Linked DNA regions of Homo sapiens: region 2 is linked to region 1. Evidence: fine-mapped expression QTL. A gene starts in region 1. The other region holds a variant in brackets. All regions are shown on one strand. Distances are between the middles of the regions. Region 1 holds the start of PTGR1 (prostaglandin reductase 1). Region 2 has its middle 18 kb from the start of UGCG.

What was found. PIP is the estimated chance that this variant, and not a neighbour inherited with it, causes the effect.
Region 2: its variant is fine-mapped to the expression of PTGR1 in lymphoblastoid cells (TwinsUK, PIP 0.95).

The regions. Positions count from the first base shown.
Region 1 is chr9:111,595,418-111,604,147 of GRCh38, forward strand. It overlaps PTGR1 (prostaglandin reductase 1), which reads right to left and starts at 4,230. Exons shown (of 10, transcript NM_001146108.2): 1 at 4,186-4,230; 2 at 1,900-2,015. The coding sequence starts at 2,005. It also overlaps the pseudogene LRRC37A5P. RefSeq lists an enhancer at 4,081-4,653.
Region 2 is chr9:111,873,583-111,884,766 of GRCh38, forward strand. No RefSeq gene overlaps it. Among named protein-coding and RNA genes, the nearest start is that of UGCG, 18 kb to the right of the region's middle. RefSeq lists an enhancer at 1,233-2,083. The variant C/CA (reference allele first, on the strand shown) is at 5,125.

The DNA of each region.
Region 1 (8,730 bases):
CAGTGCTCACCATATGGCTTCATCGCCAGCCCCAGTTGGTGTGAGAGAACATGCATTTTGCTGGAGTGACTCTCATGTATTCATTCTTTGGAATTTTGAATTTGAGTCATGGCCATCATAGCTTAGATGGGACTGATCACTTTGTCATGCTACTTGATTGCGTCCCCTTTTCTCAAATGCTTACCTACCTGTAAACACTCCTTAGAGACTCATCTTTATTTATTTATTTTTTTTGAGATGGAGTCTTGCTCTGTCGCCCAGGCTGGAGTGCAGTGGCGCGATCTTGGCTCACTGCAATCTCCACCTCCCGGGTTCATGCTATTCTCCTGCCTCAGCCTCCCAAATAGCTGGGAGTACAGGTGCTCACCACCACACCCAGCTAATTTTTTGTATTTTTAGTAGAGATGGGGTTTCACTGTGTTAGCCAGGATGGTCTCGATCTCCTGACCTTGTGATCTGCCTGCCTCAGCCTCCCAAAGTTCTGGGATTACAGGTGTGAGCCGCCACACCCAGCCGAGACTCATCTTATAGTCTGAACTCTTCGTATAGCTACTGGGCAGTGCTTACCTCACTGCCATCATCAGGCTTATGAGGATAGAGAGGACATCCTCCCCATAGTCTGGTCAAAGCCATGAAGAGTAATGCACTCAAGCATGAATTTCAGTTATCAATGAAAGCAGGGGAATCCTGCCATGTGACATCGAGGATTCACACTGAGAACCCTGGAAAGGTCTTTGTGGCAGATTGCAAAATGGCCACAAATAACTCCCACCCTTGTGTGCTTGTCTCCTTGCCACTTCTCCCATCAAGAAATCTATTTTCTGCCTCTCGAATCTGAGCTTGGTTTTGTGATTTGCTTTGACCATGGGATATTAGCAAACGTGGCACAAGTAGAGGCTTGAAAAGGGCTTGCACAGCGGGGCATGGTGGCTCACACCTTTAATCCCAGCACTTTGGGAGGTCAAGGCGGGCTGATCATCTAAGGTCAGGAGTTCAAGACCAGCCTGGCAAAGATGGGAAACCCCGTCTCTACTAAAAATGCAAACATTAAGGCCGGGCACTGTGGCTCACGCCTGTAATCCCAGCACTTTGGGAGGCCGAGGCAGGTGGATCACCTGAAGTCAGGAGTTCGAGACCAGCCTGGCCAACACAGTGAAACTCCATCTCTACTAAAAATACAAAAAAAAAAAAAAATTAGCCGGGCGTGTTGGTGGGCGCCTGTAATCCCAGCTACTCAGGTGGCTGAGGCAGGGAGAATTGCTTGAACCTGGGAGGCAAAGGTTGCAGTGAGCCGAGATTGCTCCACTGCAATCCAGCCTGGGTGACAGAGCAAGACTCCATCTCAGAAAAAATACAAAAATTAGGGGGGCATGGTGGCGCACACCTGTAATCCCAGCTACTCAGGAGGCTGAGGCAAGAGAATCGCTTGGACCCAGAAGGCAGAGGTTGCAGTGAGCCAAAATCATGCCACTGCACTCCAACCTGGGCAACAGAGCAAGACTCTGTCTCAAAAAAAAAAAAAAAAAAAAAAGAGAAAGTGCTTGCACATTGGAGCTTGCCAACTACTGCTGCTCTAGATCTATGGGGCCACTATAAGAATAGAGCTCAAGCTAGCCTGCTAGAAAGGCCACATAGATGAGAACTAAGGCATGCACCCCAACAGAAAGCCTGCTAATCAGCAGACATGTGAGCAAGGCCCATCCTAAATTAACCATTTACCCCAGATGAGACCTAAGAAGAACCACCCAGCTTAACTCAGCCCAAATTGCCAACCCAAAGAATTGTGAACTAATAAACCGTTGTTGCTTAAAGTCACTAAACTTTGGGGTAGTTTGTTATGCAGCAAAAGCTAACTGATACAGTCCCTTCCAACTCTGAAATATTTTTAGTATGACTTACCTCCATTTTTTAAGGGTGGGAGCTCAGCTGTCTTCAACTCAAAGTCACTATTAGTAGGATAGCCAACAAAGTGCTTCTTCAGGGTCCATGTCTTAGTACGAACCATCCTGAAGCTCCTAGAACACAGTAAATATGTAGTCAACTGCCATGAAGTGACTGCATTCTAACAGTTCTCTAGCCGTCAAACTGAGACCAGACAGCACAATTACAATATCCTCAAATCCCATCATTATCATATCATGCCAACCACATTCATTTAACATTTACTATGTTTCTGGTGCTGTGCTAAGCACTTCATATAGATTACCTCATTTTATCCTTATAACTTCCCTATAAGATAGACATTAGTATCATTGCCAGTGTACGGATGAGGAAACTGAGGTTTAAAGAAATCTTCAAGACAAGGAAAAAATATAAAACAACAAAGAAATTCTTCCCAGCCACTGCTAGGCTAGAGTTTCTCTACGGCACTGAACAGTTACCGGAAGTGCGAATATTCCATTCCGTTTCTCATCTCACATGGAGTGAATTCTAAGAAAAAGCATCAAACACAAAGAACCCAATAGATAGAAGTCCATGCACCTCTTTCAGATGGAAACAGCCACGCATTTCAAGGCAGTCTCAGAACTCCTGAAAACCACCGGAGGGCGCCGCTGCTCCGCCCCATTTTCAGGTGCGTTTTTTTTTTTTTTAAATACTTTTTTTTCTCTCTTTTCTTGTAGAGAGGAGCCTCACTGTGTTGCCTAGGCGATCCGCCCGCCTCGGTCTCCCAAAGTGCTGGGATTACAGGTGTGAACCACTTGCACTCAGCCATCGGGTGCGAATTTTCTTTGGCCCAGTAGGGATTTGAGTTTAAACTCCACACCAAACCGATTTTGAGCTGAAACGCTGCACCAAAGCAAGGGAAGATGATGAAGGCTGCCCCGAGCTGGGGGTTCAGGATGTTCTGCTTGGACTGAACTCTGCCGAATCACTTGGGACCTGCGCCTTCCCGCGGGTGCATCCGCTACAAACAATCCAGTTACGAAACCATTTGGAGCTGCCAGTGATCTCCCCAGCTCCCCTACCGGTGCCGCGGGAGGGGACACGGTGACCTGGAGGGAGCACTCCCGCATTGCGAGGGAGCCAGGGGGGCGGTCTGATCTGCAGCCCGGGGTTGTTCCTTCTTTTCTTTTTTTAAAATTAAGACTTTTTTTGTGACGGAGTCTCGCTCTGTCGCCCAGGCTGAAGTGCAATGGCGCGATCTCAGCTCACTGCAACCTCCGTCTCCCGGGTTCAAGCGGTTCTCCTGTCTCAGCCTCCTGAGTAGCTGGGATTACAGGCGCCCGCCACCACGCCCAGCTAATTTTTGTACTTTTAGTAGAGACGGGGTTTCCCCATGTTGGCCAGACTGGTCTAGAACTCCTGAGCTCAAATGATTCGCCCGCCTCGACCTTCCATAGTGCTGGGATTACAGGCGTGAGCCACCGCGCCAGGCCCTACGTATCATTTTTACGGTGAGACATTTGCAGTTTACTCTGTTATTTCGAAATACACATTATTGGCTCTAGTCACTCTGCTGTGCAACAGATCTCAGAACCTACTCCTCTCGTCTCTGAACTTCGTACCCTTTGGCCAACAAGCCCCCATTCCCCCCCGAACCCGCTCCCAGCCTCTGGCAACCATCATTCTAGTCGTTATTTCTATGAGTTCAACTTCTTTAGAGTTCACACATCTTTGTCCCTTTCCCCAAAAAAGCAACCGCTGGGCTTCCAAACTCGCTACAAGTCCAGAAGCCCTCCTGGAAAGGGTCTGGCCGCAGAGGGGCCAGGTCCCGGGAAAGTCTCGCCCGCCCGAGGAGGGGGCCTGGCGCGGCGCCCGGCCTTTGCCCGCTCGCCCTTTGCTCCCACCCTCGCCTCCCGCCGCCCGCCGCCCGCTTGCCCATTCCCGAATCCCCACCCCGATCTTTCTTCTTCTACCCTCCCCCAGTTGTGCAGTCCAGCAAGTTCCCTGGCCAGCCCCCTCCCGGGTGCAGGAAGCTACCGGGTGTCCCGGGTTGTAACCAAGCTTTCCTATTCCCTCCGGCGCGCGGCTCCAAGCTCTCCAAGGAACTGCGGGGGCGGGAGGCGTCGGGACGTCGGCTCCCAAGATCCTCCGAGTGCAAGACCCAGCGGTCATTTCGACGTAAGGGGAGGAGGTCTAAGAGCAAACCTCCTCCACTGGGGCGTCTAGAAACTTGGCAGGAAGAAAGCAAGGGGGTTAGAGGAGGGAGAAAAGGGAAGGAAAGAAAGCAGGAGGTCTACTTACAGGAGCCCGAAGGTTCCACTGCCTGGGGAAGGCGGCTGGGACTGCGCAGCCGGGCGCCCGGGGTCCGACTTATGACAGGTCCCAAGAGAGGGTGGGGCCACCCCAGGGCGGGGCTGCTTCTTTAGGGTGAGAGCCCGGCCCCGAAAGGGTCACAGGAGGAAAACCAGGGTCCGGGAAATCTGAGTGCGTTTGTGTGTGTGTGTGCGCGTATCTCTGTGTGCCTATGTGCATGTGCGCGCGCGTATGTGTGCATGTGTGCGTGTGTGTGCGTGCGCGCCCGCGCGCCCGTGTGTGTGCGTGTAGGGGGTTAGGGACTCCTGATAGGAAAATTCCTAACAGAGCTTTGTCCAGCTGACACTGGACCTCCGCCTGGGGTCCTAAGTTGGAGCCCGGCGGAAATATGCCCCGTGGGGGAACCAACCGTGGCATCTGCCAAGCAGGCCGGAAGGGTCCAAAGGCAGGGCCTGGGGCGGCCGCAGCCCTAATAAGCCCCCGGTGCTGGCTCCGATCCCTGGGCTCCCCGTCAGCCCTGCCGCTTGCCCGCAGTGCAAGCTTTCGCCCAGGGCTGCGGTGCAGACACCCTGCCTGTCTGTCCCCAGTCCGCCTGCTGAACACCTACTCGCCTTCCACCAGCCAATTCAAGGTCACCTCTGTGAACCCTTGCCAGACTCCCCCAGGCAGGAGTGAGCACTCTTGCCACTGAGGCACCCCACCCATCACACCCTAGCAAACATCAGGCCTTGACCTGGCTTCTGCAAGGAGAGGTGGTCTCAGGCAGGGGTTGAACGTGAAGCTAAGTCGTTGGTATTAGACGACTGCAGGTTCGAAGCCTGCACCTGCCACTTACTAGTGGTGTAGCTTTCAAAGACTTACTTACCTTCTCCTTGCCTCACTCAGTTCAGCCATCTGCAAGATGGGGATAAGAAGAATGCCTAACTTCCAGTCATTGTGAAGATTCAATGTCTTTAATTTATTTATTTAATTTTAATTATTTTGAGGTCTTGCTCTGTCACCCAGGCTGGAGTGCAATGGTGGGCATCATAGCTCATTGCAGCCTTGAACTCCTGGACTCAGGTGATCCTCCTTCAGCCTCCCTAGAAGCTGGGATTACAGGCCCACCACCACACCTGGCTCAATGTCTCTCCTTGTAAGGATACCCGCCATATTGGATTAGAGCCCCACTTGTCAGCCTCCGTTTAACTTAAACACGTCTTTGAAGGCCTTGTCTTCAAATACTGTCAAATGGATTAGGGCTCACTAATATGGCCTCATGTAACCTTAATTACCTCTTTAAAGGCCCTATCTACAAATACAGTTACATTCTGAGTACTGGGACTTGGGGATTTTAACACATGAAATTGGGGAAGACACAGTTCAGCCCATAACAGAGTGTGTGGACCAAGCGTGGTGGACGCATGCCACAGGATATACACAGCATCAGAAGCACTGGGTTCCATGTACATAAAGCAACTTGGATGGACCCTAAAAACACAATGCCGAGAGTTGAATTCTTCACACTAATCAGAGTTGGTGGCACTTTATCCCCACTGGTCTGCCAAATTCTTTCTTTCTCACTCTCTCCCTTCTCATTAATTTATGTAACTTAATATAAAACAAAACTCCATTCCCAGGCTGGGTGCTGTGGCTCATGCCTGTAATCCTAGCACTTTTGGAGTCTGAGACAAAAGGACCACTTGAGGCCAAGCATTCAAGACTTGCGTGGGCAACATAGCTTTAACCTGGGAGGTGGAGGCTGCAGCGAGCTGCGATCGTGGCACTGCACTCTAGACTGGGTGTCTAAGTGAGATCCCGTCTCAAAAGAAAACCAAAAAAACTCAATTTCCTGCTTTTCTCCTCCTACTATAGGTAACTACTGTGATGTATTTGATTTGCATACAGTTTTTTTTTCCATGTTCTTACATAATGTGCACTGTGGTCATATACATTTAATTTATAGAAACGGTATTGGGTTACATATCGCATTCTGCTTCTCTCTTTTTTTTTTCTTTTAAGATAACTTGTTACAGAATCACTGTTTCTTTTGGATATTAGAAGTGTTAATAAAATTGCAGGCATAAAAAGTCTTTGCAAAGTAAGAATAAGAGAAAAAAGTGCCAGAAACACAGAGTGGCTCACATATTTACTCACTTGTCCTTAAATTGAAGATACAGATAAGATTGGGCCGCACCAGGTCAAACAAAATCTGTTTCCCAAACTTGATGACTCAGTCAGTCTCAAAGGCTGCAGCTTGTCAAGTCATGGTGATTAAGTTAAATCACGGCTGTTACATACTCGCACACAGAGAGTTAGAATATGGAATAAAGGATCAAGGAAAAAGATTTTCCTTTGCTTTACCCCAAGACAAAACTCTACTCAATTCAGTTCTCTGATCTTAGGTTTCAATGAGTTCTGATCTAACTGTGGAGGGAACAGTTCACTTAAAACAATAAAGCAGTAACAAACAAGTAATTAAAAAATGCTTTTTTATCAAATAATTCAGATGATACAGATGTGTACGCTATAAAAAGCAAAAGTCATTGTTATCTGTTTGGTGGAAATTTCTTTTGGATTTTTTTTTTGTACTTCAAAAACAGACAGACTTAGTCAGGGGTGGTGGCTCATGCCTATAATCCCAGCACTTTGGGAGGCCAAGGCGGGTGGATCACTTGATGTCAGAAGTTCGAGACCAGCCTGGCCAACATGGTGAAACCCCATCCCTACTAAAACTACAAAAATTAGCTGGGCATGGTGGCGGGCGTCTGTAGTCCCAGCTCCTTGGGAGGCTGAGGCTGGAGAATCACTTGAATACAGGAGGTGGAGGTTGCAGTGAGGCAAGATCATGCCACTGCACTCCAGCCTGGGCGACAGAGCAAGACTCTTTCTCAAAAACAAACAAACAAACAAACAAAAACAGACAGATTTGTCCCCCACTTTTTTCTCTACAACTTCCATTTCATTGGTCTGGTGGGATAATGCTTGAGAAATAATTATAACAACAAACAGTAATATTTGTCTCATAATTGCAGGAATTCCTGAATATATGTGGGACACTGCGTTTGAAGAGATAGTGATTATCCTCTCTGCACAGCACAGAGGAGATGCAATCTTGCACTAGAATAGCCCTTGGTATCCAGTATTTCTAGTCCTCATGATGACCCAAGGAGGGGTCATCAACAGGTTTGCATGCCCACTGCATAGTATAGACCAATTACACTAAGACAGCAGGGATGCAGCAAAGAAAGAGTTTAATGATCACAGGCCACCCAGCAAGGAAGTGGAAGGAAACCCTCAAATCTGTCTCCCAAGAAGTTCTGGCCTGGGGCTTTAAGAGGATTGTGGAGAGTGAGGGGCTGGAAAATTGGGGTTGCTGGTCGGTTGGGGCAAGGGGGATAAAATCATCGCAAAGTGGAAACTGTATTTTTTGATGAGGTAGCTCCTCGGGGAGTCCTTCAGGACAGCTGCATCAGTGTGGTCCTTCAGCTGACATCAGTAGTTTCTTCCATATCAGGACCTGAAGGAATATCTCAAAGTGAAAACAACATTTCATAATGTTCGAGTTGCTATTTAAAGAGCAGTTAAGGTGAACTATAATCTTGTAACTGGGTCTAGTGATTCTAGAACAATAGGCACCAAAGTGTGAGGAAGCAGATGGGAGAGTGTGCCGAGTTAATCATGAATGCTGAACCTGCTGCCAGCTTGGTTTGTTTTTGTTTCTCCCTCCCTCCCTTCTTTCCTGATTAATTTTATGTATTTTTTGAGATGGAGTCTTGCTCTGTCTCCCAGGCTGGGGTGCAGTGGCATGATTTTGGCTCACTGCAACCTCTACCTCCCGGGTTCAAGGAATTCTCCTGTCTCAGCCTCCTGAGTAGCTGGGCCTACAGGCACACACCACCACGCCAGGCTAATTTTTGTATTTTTAGTAGAGACAGAGTTTCACTATATTGGTCAGGCTGGTCGTGAACTCCTGACCTCAGGTGATCCACCCGCCTCAGCCTCCCAAAGTCCTGGGATTACAGGTGTGAGCCACCGTGCCCGGCCTAATTTTATAAAGTTTATAGGGGCAGTTTCAGAAGCAAATATTACCATCATCTTCCTTGGAGCCTCAGGAAACTGAAAGTCTGAGAGGTAAAACAACGTAGACAAGATCACATAGCTAGTCAGTAGCAGGGTTGAGATTTGAATCTCAGTCCATGTCAAAGTCCTACACTTTTGTCTGTTCCATTCACGTTGACAGCCCAATTCTGTTGCTGTTGGGGGTGCCACTATGCCGCGGATCTATTGGACTGAACAAAGGGGGCAAACGCGGGAATAAAAGACAGTAGACAAAAGAGTATATTTGGAAGAAGGAGTCAGGGGGAACCTAGCGTCTAGTGGACAAGGGTCCTGAGCTTTACACAGCCCTCCGTATTTATTAGGTAAAAGAGATAGCGAGAAGCAGGGGTGATTGTTGAGTAATTGTCAGTCGGCCGTCTGGTTCACAGCAGGCTTGCGAGACTGCATCCTTTGAACAATAGGCCCTAATTTTCTCAGTAGATAACTATCGGG
Region 2 (11,184 bases), 280 kb after region 1:
AAAATTCGATATAATTAGTCATGTCCTTCCCTTTTACTCCTTTTTTCACTTGGCTTCCATGACTCTGAAGTCTTCTGGTTTTCCTCCCATGGCACTGGTTATTCCATCTCAGTTTCCTATGTTAATCCATTTTGTTAGTTTCTAAACAGCTGTGTTTAAGTGCCTTAGCGTTCAGTCTGAGACCTCTTCTTTATCAACACTGATGGCATTAACAATCTGTTTTTTATCCACACTTTATTGGTGGGATGGCTTTTTAATCTTTTGGGTCTATGGATAGAATGGTATTTCAATATAATTGACTTCCTTTTTGTACCAGTCCGTTCTTGCACTGCTATAAAGAAATACCTAATCTGGGTAATTTATAAAAAAAAAAAAAGAGGTTTAATTGGCTCATGGTTCTGCAGGCTATACAGGAAGCATGACTGGGGAGGCTTGGACAGCTTCCCTCCCACATCTGGCACCCTGGCAGTGATGGCTGGAAAGCTGGGTTTATCTGGGACAATTGACTGAAATACCTATGGATCCTCTCCAGCCTGGTGATCTCAGAGAGGTAAGATTTCTTTTTTTTTTTTCTGAGACGGAGTCTCGCACTGTCACTCGGGCTTGAGAGTAATGATGCAATCTCGGCTCACTGCAACCTCCTGAATAGCTGGGATTACAGGTGCCTGCCACCATGCCCGGCTAATTTTTTGTATTTTTACTAGAGACAGGGTTTCACTATGTTGGCCAGGTTGATCTCGAACTCCTGACCTCGTGATCTGCCCGCCTTGGCCTCCCAAAGTGCTAGGATTATAGATGTGAGCCACCACGCCCAGCTGAGAGGTAAGATTTCTTATGTGGGAGCTCAGGGCACCCAGAGTGTTCCAAGAGGCCTGGGTAGAAACAGCAAGGCTTCTCATGGCCTAACCCTAGGTGTCCCAGATTGTCATTTTTACCCGTTTGTAGGTCAAGCAAGTCATTAAATCAACCCAGATTCAAGAGGAGGGAAATTAGACACCACCTCTCAAAGGGAAGGGAAACAAAGCTCTATGGCCATCTTTAATCTACCACAGATGCCTAATAGGTGTCTCATTTGTAACATGTCCAAACAAAACTCTCAATTTCCTCTCTATACCTGCTCCTTTCTGGTGATCACCCTCCCAGTAAATTGGACCGATTGCTCAGGCCCCAATTCTTGGAGTCATCCATGACTGTCCTCTTAGTTCCATACTCTACATTCTATTCATTAGCAAATCCTGTTGGCACCACCTTGAAAATACATCCTCAGTCTGACTGCTCACTCTCTCTACCTCTATTGCTATCACTCTAGTATGACCCACTATCGTTTTTTTCCTGGACTACTTTCATAGTTTCCCAACCGGATTATCAGCTACCACTCTTGACCTCATGACTCCTCCACACAACAGCCTCAGAGATCCATTTATTTATTTATTTTTGAGACAGGGTCTTGCTTTGTTGCCCAGGCTGGAGTACAGTGGTGTGATCACAGCTCACTGCAGCCTCAATCTCCCCAGGCTCAGGCAATCCTCCCACATCAGCCTCCTGAGTAGCTGGGACTACAGACACGTGCCACCAAACCCAGCTTATTTTTGTATTTTTTGTAGAGACAGGGTTTGTAGGTCTCTGGCCTAGAGCAGTGGTAATGAGGATTGAAGAGCCAAAGTGAATTCCAAAGCTATCCCAGTGATAGGGCAAATTATTTAAATAAGACCCTCTTTTCTGTGGGGAAAAGAGAGATCAGACTGTTACTGTGTCTATGTAGAAAGAAGTAGACATAAGAGACTCCATTTTGTTCTGTACTAAGAAAAATTCTTTTGCCTTGAGATGCTGTTAATCTGTAACCCTACCCCCAACCCTGTGCTTGCAGAGACATGTGCTGTGTCAACTCAAGGTTTAATGGATTTAGGGCTATGCAGAATGTGCTTTGTTAAACAAATGCTTGAAGGCAGCATGCTTGTTAAAAGTCATCACCACTCCCTACTCTCAAGTACCCAGGGACACAAAACACTGTGGAAGGCCACAGGGACCTCTGCCTAGGAAAGCCAGGTATTTTCCAAGGTTTCTCCCCATGTGATAGTCTGAAATATGGCCTCGTGGGAAGGGAAAGACCTGACCGTCCCCTAGCCTGACACCCATAAAGGGTCTGTGCTAGGAAGGATTAGTAAAAGAGGAAGGCCTCTTTGCAGTTGAGGTAAGAGGAAGGCATCTGTCTCCTGCTCATCCCTGGGCAATGGAATGTCTTGGTGTAAAACCCGATTGTATATTCCATCTACTGAGATAGGAGGAAACCGCCTTAGGGCTGCAGGTGAGACATGCTGGTGGCAATACTGCTCTTTAAGGCATTGAGATGTTTATGTATATGCACATCAAAAGCACAGCACTTTTTTCTTTGCCTTGTTTATGATGCAGAGACATTTGTTCACATGTTTTCCTGCTGACCTTCTCCCCACTATTACCCTATTGTCCTGCCACATCCCTCTCTCCAAGATGGTAGAGATAATGATCAATAAATAGTGAGGTAACTCAGAGACTGGTGCTGGCGCAGGTCCTCCGTATGCTGAGTGCCCATCCCCTGGGCCCACTTTCCTTTCTCTATACTTTGTCTCTGTGTCTCTTTTGTTTCTCAAGTCTCTCGTTCCACCTGACGAGAAACACCCACAGGTGTGGAGGGGCAGGCTACCCCTTCACTTTCCACTCTCACTTTCCAAATTCCAAAAATGCAAGAGTTTTAGGTACATTTACAAGCTGCCCTGTCATCCATTGCCCAGGCTGGTCTCAAATTCCTGGGCTCAAGTGAGTCACTCGCCTTCGTCTTCCAAGAGATCCTTTTAAATGTAAGTCAAATCATGTCATCAATGTGCTTATAATGTTCCAGTGGCTTCATATCTCAAAGTAGAATCCAAAATTCTTACGAGGACTTTCATAACTTAATAATATCTAAATCCTGGCCACTATTCTGACCTTATTTCCTACCTTTCTTCCCTTCATTCACTCCAGTCCAGCCCCACTGGCTTATCTGTTCTTCCTCAAAGAAGCCAAATGTGCTCTTCCACAAGGCCGTTGCACTTGGCACTTCTCACTACACGGAATGCCCCTTCCTTACATATTTGTGTGGCTTAATCCCCTATTTTATTGAGGTCTTTGTTCAAATGTCATTTATTTAGAGAAGCCCTGTTTATCACTGCAGCACCCATATTTACTCTTTTTTTTTTTTTTTTTTTTTTTGAGACAAGGTCTCCCTCTGTCTCCCAGGCTGGAGTGCAGTGGCATGATTATGGCTCACTGTAGCCTCGACCTGCTGGGCTTAAGCAAGCCTCCCACCGCAGCTTTCCAAGTAGCCAGGACAACAGGCACACGCCACCACGTCCAGCTAATTTTTAAAATGTTTATACAGACAGAGTCTCACCATGTTGCCCAGGCTGGTCTTGAAATCCTGAGCTCAAGTGATCCTCCCACCTTGGCCTCCAAAGGGGCTAGGATTACAGGTGTGAGCCACCACATCTGGGCCACATTTACTCTGTATCCCCTCTATCACACTATCCTATGCATTTATTTTTTTAATACCTGCCTGCTGCATTAGAATATAAGTTCCATGAAAGCAGAAACTTAGTCTTATTTGCTACTATTTCCCCATCCCTCAAAACAGTGCCTATCACATAATAGGTGTTCAATAAATGTTTGTTGAATAAATGAATAAATGTGTTTAGTCTACCTATTGGGTGCTTCAACACTAGGAGCCAAAAGAGAATGTTTACTAAAACCTTGGGGGTAATTTGGTTCACTGTGGAATAGCACCTTCACCAATATTAATCATGATGTGGTTCAATTGCAAATCAAAGGAATGCATACAGTTTTTGAATCTGCCTCTCATTCATTCTCTCTGCGGGATCTAATAATAGTCCCTCTTGGAATAGCTGTGAATTGCTGAACAATGCAAGTACTTTATTTTTATTCCTTCTTTAGAATATTAGGTTATTTCCTACCTCTTTCTTGCATGCACATTTTATAGCCTTCTGACAGGAATCAGTTCTACTGATAAATGTGTGTACCTAGCAAAGGCTAGTTAATGATATAAATCATAGAGTAAATCAAGACCCATGTACCAGATAAATTGGCCAAGGTGATGGAAGGGCATAAAAGTGAGAAGAGATTAGGAAAGGCACTGTAAGATAGGAGCTTATAAATGCTAGTGAATGTTTACCTTTTTTAGTTGGTCTTAAGTTAGGACGTAGCCTGCTTCCAATTGCACCACATAGGCTAAGTGGTCAATAAAATATCTCGAGTTAACATAAAAATATAAAGTTCTATCTTTCTTTTTTTTTTTTTTTGAGACAGAGTCTCATTTTGTCACCCAGGCTGGAGTGCAGTGGCACGATCTAGGCTCACTGCAACTGCTGCCTCCTGGTTTCAAGTGATTCACCTGCCTCAGCCTCCCAGTTTCAAGTGATTCTCCTGCCTCAGCTTCCCAAGTAGCTGAGATTACAGGCACGTGCCATCATGCCTGGCTAACGTTTATATTTTTGGTAGAGACAGGATTTCACCATGTTGGCCAGGCTGGTCTTGAGCTCCTGACCTGAACTGATCCACCCACCTCAGCCTCCCAAAGTGCTGGGATTATAGGCATGAGCCACCATGCCCAGCCTAAATTCTGCCTTTTTGGAATGCTAAGGTGCCATAGCTACAGGAGGGATGAAGGATGGAGGGATAAAGAATATGTACTAGTGTAGGAATAAGTGGAGCACTGGTGACAACTCTGAGAAAGTAAAAAAACAAACAGAAAAAGTTCTTGCAAAATTCTGCTACCTGCCTGGAGGGCAGTAAGAACATTTAGAAAGATATTGCTGCTGGCCGGGAGCAGTGGCTCACGCCTGTAATCCCAGCACTTTGGGAGGCTGAGGTGGGTGGATCATGAGGTCAGGAGATTGAGACCATTATGGCCAACATGATGAAACCCCGTCTCTACTAAAACACAAAAAATTAGCCAGGCATGGTGGTGTGCGCCTGTAGTCCCAGCTACTCGGGAGGCTGAGGCAGGGGAATCGCTTGAACCCGGGAGGTGGAGGTTGCAGTGAGCCGAGATCACACCACTGCACTCCAGCCTGGTGACAGAGCAAGACTCCATCT[C/CA]AAAAAAAAAAAAAAAAAAAAAAAGGAAAGATATTGCTGCTAATCCAGATATGGATGCTGTGATGGCCAGAGCCTTGGCACTCAAAGTGAGATCTGTACACCAGCATGGGCATTGCCTGGGTGCTTATTAAAAATGTGGAATATCAGGCTCCACCCCAGACCCACTGAATTAGAATCTACATTTTGACAAGATTCCCAACTGATTCACATACACAATAAAGTTTGAGAGTCTCTGGCCTAGAGCAGTGGTAATGAGGATTGAGGAGCCAAAGTGAATTCTAAAGTTGTCTCAGTCTCAGTACTACGGCAAATTATTGAGATAAGACTTTCCTTTCTACTCTCACTTTCCAGGTTCCAAAAAGGAAGGGTTTAGGTCCACTTACTAGCCATTTGACCTTGGATAAATTATTAACTCCCCTATGCTTCATTAATATGGCTCTGTTGTCACTAAGGTATCCAAAAAACTCTAACTGCTGACTCTATGAATTATTTGTAATCCTCCTCCTCTTGCACTGCCCGGTCAAGTGGTCATACAGTTCATTTGAATTTTTATGTATTTGATCTACCCTATTGTAAAGTTAACAAATTACTGGGGAGTAAATACTAAGACTAATGATGGTTCCAACAGGGCCCCGCTTCTAGCTGTGAGGAATGAGACGTTTGCCTCCCTTGGAACAAAGCTCTATAAATAGGTAATCTAACTGGAAAATTGCTCAACAAATGTATTAATTATGCTTAATGCTTGCATATAGAATAAATTTGGTGGAAATCACTAATGTACCAAAGGAGTAGCATCCTAGGTCATATAAGAACTAGTTCCTCTTCCCTTAGCATAGTGGCTTCGAACAAGTAGAAAATCATCATCGCCATTATTTTTAACCCTTAGGATAACTTTCCAAAGGCCCATTCATCCTCAGTGTGGAAATGGTGAGACTAAAGGGCTGACAAAACTAAAAATAAACAGAGCAGATTTTAAACTTAATTGATGATGGCTTCCAAGGACTTTAAAAAACTCAGGTGTCTCAAGGAAAAAGCTTGTCCTCATTTCTTATCAATGGATGACTAATCATTTTGAACCATTTTTATTTTAACCATTTTCAACTCTCTTTATCTACAATTTGTCCCCACCTTATGCCTAGTTTAACACAACTGCCAGTGAATTCTAGGGAGGATAAAAACACTTTATGGCAAGCAAAAGCTGGAAGGCAGCACTTGAGAATGAATGGCAGATGAAGAAATTCTGAAAATCCTCTCCTCCATATAAGCAATGTGAACACTTTGCAAAAATTGTCAAAATTAACTTTTCTCAGAACTCTGGAAATTAACAAAAGATCTACAACTATCTGAGAAGCTTTTATTCAAGAAAAATGGTTGAGGCTGGGCACAGTGGCTCACACCTATAGTCCCAGTACTTTGGGAGGCCAAGGAGGGTGGATCACCTGAGGTCAGGAGTTTGAGACCAGCCTGACCAATATGGTGAAACCCCATCTCTACTAAAAATACAAAAATTAGCTGGGCATGATGGCGGGCACCTGTAACCCCAGCTACTTGGGAGGGTGAGGCAGGAGAATCGATTGAACCCGGGAGGCAGAGGTTGCAGTGAGCCAAGGTCATGCCATTGCACTCCAGCTTGGGTGACAGAGTGAGACTCCATCTCAAAAAAAAAAAAGAAAAGAAAAGAAAAAGAAAAAGAAAAATGGTTGCATCTAGGTAAAAACAGTGAGCTTTGTGGAATTTCCATGTGCCCTATTTCCATACTTTGAAGTAGATGGAAACAAAACTACAGTTTACCAAAATTCATGGTATATAGTTAAATCAGTGCAGAAAGAAGTTTATAGCTATAAACGCCTATATTTTAAAGAAGAAAAAATATCAAATGAATAAATTAAACTTCCACCTTAAAAAACTGGAGCAAAAGAGCAAGCTAAGCTCAGCATAAGCAGCAGTAGGAAAATAATAAAAATTAAAGTAGAAATAAATGAAATAGAAAAGAGAAAAACAATACAGAAAATCAATGTAACCAAAAGTTTGTTCTTTGAAAATATCAACAAGATAAATATTTAGTTAGACTGACCAAAAGAAAAAAAGAGAAGAATAAAATTACTAAAATCAGCAATGAAAGAGGAAACTTTATGACCAAATGGAAATAAAAGGAATTACAATGGGATACTACGACAACTGTTTGTCCACAAATTAGATAACTTCCGTGAAATGGATCGCTTCCTAGAAAGACACAAACTACTGAAACTGGTTCAAGAAGAAAGAGAATATCTGAATAGACCTATAATAAGTCAAGACATTGAAATAGTATTAAAAAAGAAATTTACCCAAAAGAAAAGCCCAAGCCCAGATGCCTTCCATATTGAATTCTACCAAGCATTTAAAAATAGAAGAATTAATACAAATTCTTCAAAAACTTTCTAAAAAATAGAAGAAAAGGGAACATTTCTCAACTATTCTATAAAGCTAGTATTACCCTGATACCAAAACTGAAGACATTGCAAGAAAATAAAATTATAGACCAACATCTCTTATAAATATAGGCGCAAAAATCTTCAATGAATATTAGCAAACTGAATCCAGCAACATATAAAAAGAATTATACAATATGACCAGGTGGGATTTGTTCCAGGAATGCAAGGTTGGTTTAGCTTCTGAAAATCAAGCAATATAATACACTGTATTAGTAGAATAAGAAACTGTATGATCATCTCAATAGACACAGAAAAATCTTGTGACAAAATTCAACACCCTTTTATGATAAAAACACTCAACAATTGAGGAATATAAGGGAACTTCCTCAACCTGATAAGGGGCATCTATGAAAAACGCATAGCCAACAACATAATTAATGGTGAAAGATTGAAAGCTTTCCCCCTTATAAGTGGGAACAGGTCAATGATGTCTGCTCTTACCACTTCTATTTACATTATACTGGAAGTTCTAGCTGGGGGCAATTGGGTAAGGAAAATAAATAAAAACACCCAGATTGGAAGGAGAGAAGTAAAAATACTTATATTTAAAGATAACATGATCTTATACACAGAAAATCTTAATGAATACACACACACACACACACACACACACACACACACACACACAAGCTATTGGAATAAGCAAGTCAGCAAGGCTGTAAGATACAAGATCAATATACAAAATTCAATTGTATTTCTATACATTTGCAATGAACAATCCAAAGGTAAAATTAAGAAGATAATTTAATTTACAATAACATCAAAGAGGCCAGGTGCAGTGGCTCATGCATGTAATCCCATTACTTTGGGAAGCCAAGGTGAGGAGATTGCTTGAGTCCAGGAGTTCAAGACCAGCCTAGGCAACACAGCAAGACCCATCCCTAAAAAAAATTAAAAAAAATTAGCCAAACACAGTGGTGCACACCTGTAGTGCCTGCTACTTGGCAGGCTAAGGCAGGAGAATCACTTGAGCCAGGGAAATTGAGGCTGCAGTGAGTCATGGTCACACCACTGCACTCCAGCCTTGGTGACAGAATGAGACTCTGCTCTCAAAAACAAAAACAAACAAAAGCATGCAACAGCATGAAAGAGAATAAAATACCTGGAAATAAATTTAAGAAAAGAACTTCAAGACCCGTACACTGAAAACTAGAAAGCATTGCTAACTGAAATTAAAGACATAAATATATGGGAAGCCATCCCATGTTCATGGGTCAGAAGGCTTATTAAGATGGTAATACCTGCCGGGTGTGGTGGCTCACACCTGTAATCCCAGCACATTGGGAGACTAAGGTGGGCAGATCATTTGAGGTCAAGAGTTTGAGACTAGCCTGGCCGACATTGTGAAACACCGTCTCTACTACAAATACAAAAATTAGCTGGGCATGGTGGTGGGTTCCTGTAGTCCCAGCTACTTGGGATGCTGAGGCAGGGGAATTGCTTGAACCTGGGAGGCAGAGGCTGCAGTGAGCTGAGATCGCACCACTGCACTCCAGCCTGGGCGACAGAGTGAGACTCTGTCTCAAAAAAAAAAAAGGTGGCAATAGCATCCAAATTGATCTACCGATTTAATGCAACCTCTATCAAAATCTCAGCTTTTCTTTTTCAGAAATTAACAAGCTGACCATGAAATTCACATTGAAACTCAAGAGACACAGATGGGCTGGGCATGGTGGCTCACGCCTGTAATCCCAGCACTTTGAGAGCCCAAGGCAGACTGATCACGAGGTCAGGGGTTCAAGACCAGACTGACCAACCCTGTCTCTACTAAAAATACAAAAATTAGCCGGTCATGGTGGCGCATGCCTGTAATTCTAGCTACTCAGGAGGCTGAGGCAGGAGAATCGCTTGAACCTGGGAGGCAGAGGTTGCGTGAGCTGAGATTGCACCACTGCACTCCAGTCTGGGTAAGAGCGAGACTCTGCCTTAGGAAAAAAAAAAAAAAAGACACAGAAAAATCAAAAACAATCTTGAAAAAGAACAAAGTTCTCACGCTTCCCAGTTTCAAAGTTACAAAGTTACTACAAATTGACAATAATCAAGACCATGTGGTACTGACATAAGGATAGACATGCAGATGAATGAATGAGAGTCCAGAAATAAATCTATACGTCTGTAGTCAATTTTTGACAATGATGTTGACATCATTCAATGTTCTCAGCACCATTGTCAAAAGAATCCTCTTTTCAATAAGTGGTGCTAGGACAACAGGATATTCACGTGCAAAAGAATGAAGATAGACGCCTATCTTACATGATATACAAAACTTAAATCAAACTGGATCAACGACTTAAATACAGGAGCTAAAACTGTACAATTCTTAGAAGAAAACATGGGCATAAACCTTGTGACCTGAGTTAGCCAGTGGTATGTTTGACATGATTCCAAAAAACAAGTGACAAAACAAAAAATAGATAAATCGGACCATCGAAATACAAAATTTTATGCTTTACTTTGGGAGGCCGAGGTGGGCGGATCACCTGAGGTTGGGAGTTCGAGACCAGCCTGACCAACATGGAGGAACCCTGTCTCTACTAAAGATACAAAATTAGCTGGGCGTGGTGGTGCATGCCTGTAATCCCAGCTACTTGGGAGGCTGAGGCAGGAGACTCACTTGAACCCAGGAGGTGCAAGTTGCCGTGAGCCAAGATCCCGCCACTGCATTCCAGCCTGGGCAACAAAAGCAAAACTCCATCTAAAAAAAAAAAAATTGTGCTTCAAATGACACCATCAAGGAAGGGAAAAGAAAATCCACAGAATGAGGAGCAGTAATTGCTAATCATATACCTGATAAGCAACTTGTACCTAGAATACATAAAACACTCTTGGCTTGTTTTTTGTTTTTGTTTTTGTTTGAGACAGAGTCTTGTGCTGTCCGTTATCCAGCCTGGAGTGCAATAGCACACTCATGGCTCACTTGAGCTTTGACTTCCTAGGCTCAAGTGATCCTCACACCTCAGCCTCCTGAGTACCTGGGACTCCAGGTGTGCACCATCTCACCCAGCTAATTTTTGTATTTTCTGTAGAGATGGAGTTTTACCATGTGGGAGGCTGGACTCGAACTCCTGGGCTAAAGTGATCCACCTGCCTCGGCTTCCCAAAGTGCTGGGATTACAGGCATGAGCCACCATGAGCAGCCCATAAAGTACTCTTACAACTAAATAATAAAAAGATAAAACCACAATTTTAAAAATCAGAAGGATTTTAATAGATATTCCTTCAGAGAATATATACAAATGGTCAATAAGAACATTAAAATATGCTCAACATCATTAGCCATTAAGGAAATACGAATCAATACCACAATGAGAAATCACTTCACACTTACTAAGACAGTTATGACAAATTTTGGTAAGGATGTGGAGAAATGGGAACTTGCATATATTGCTGGTGGGATTGTAAAATGGTACAGTCACTTTAGAAGAGTCTGGCGGTAACTCCAAAAGTTAAACATAAAGTTACCATACAACTCAGCACTCTTAGGTATATACCCAAGAGAAATAAAAAATATGTGCCTATACAAAAACCTGTAAATGAATATTCATAACAGCTTTATTCATAATAGCCAAAACATGGAAACAACCCA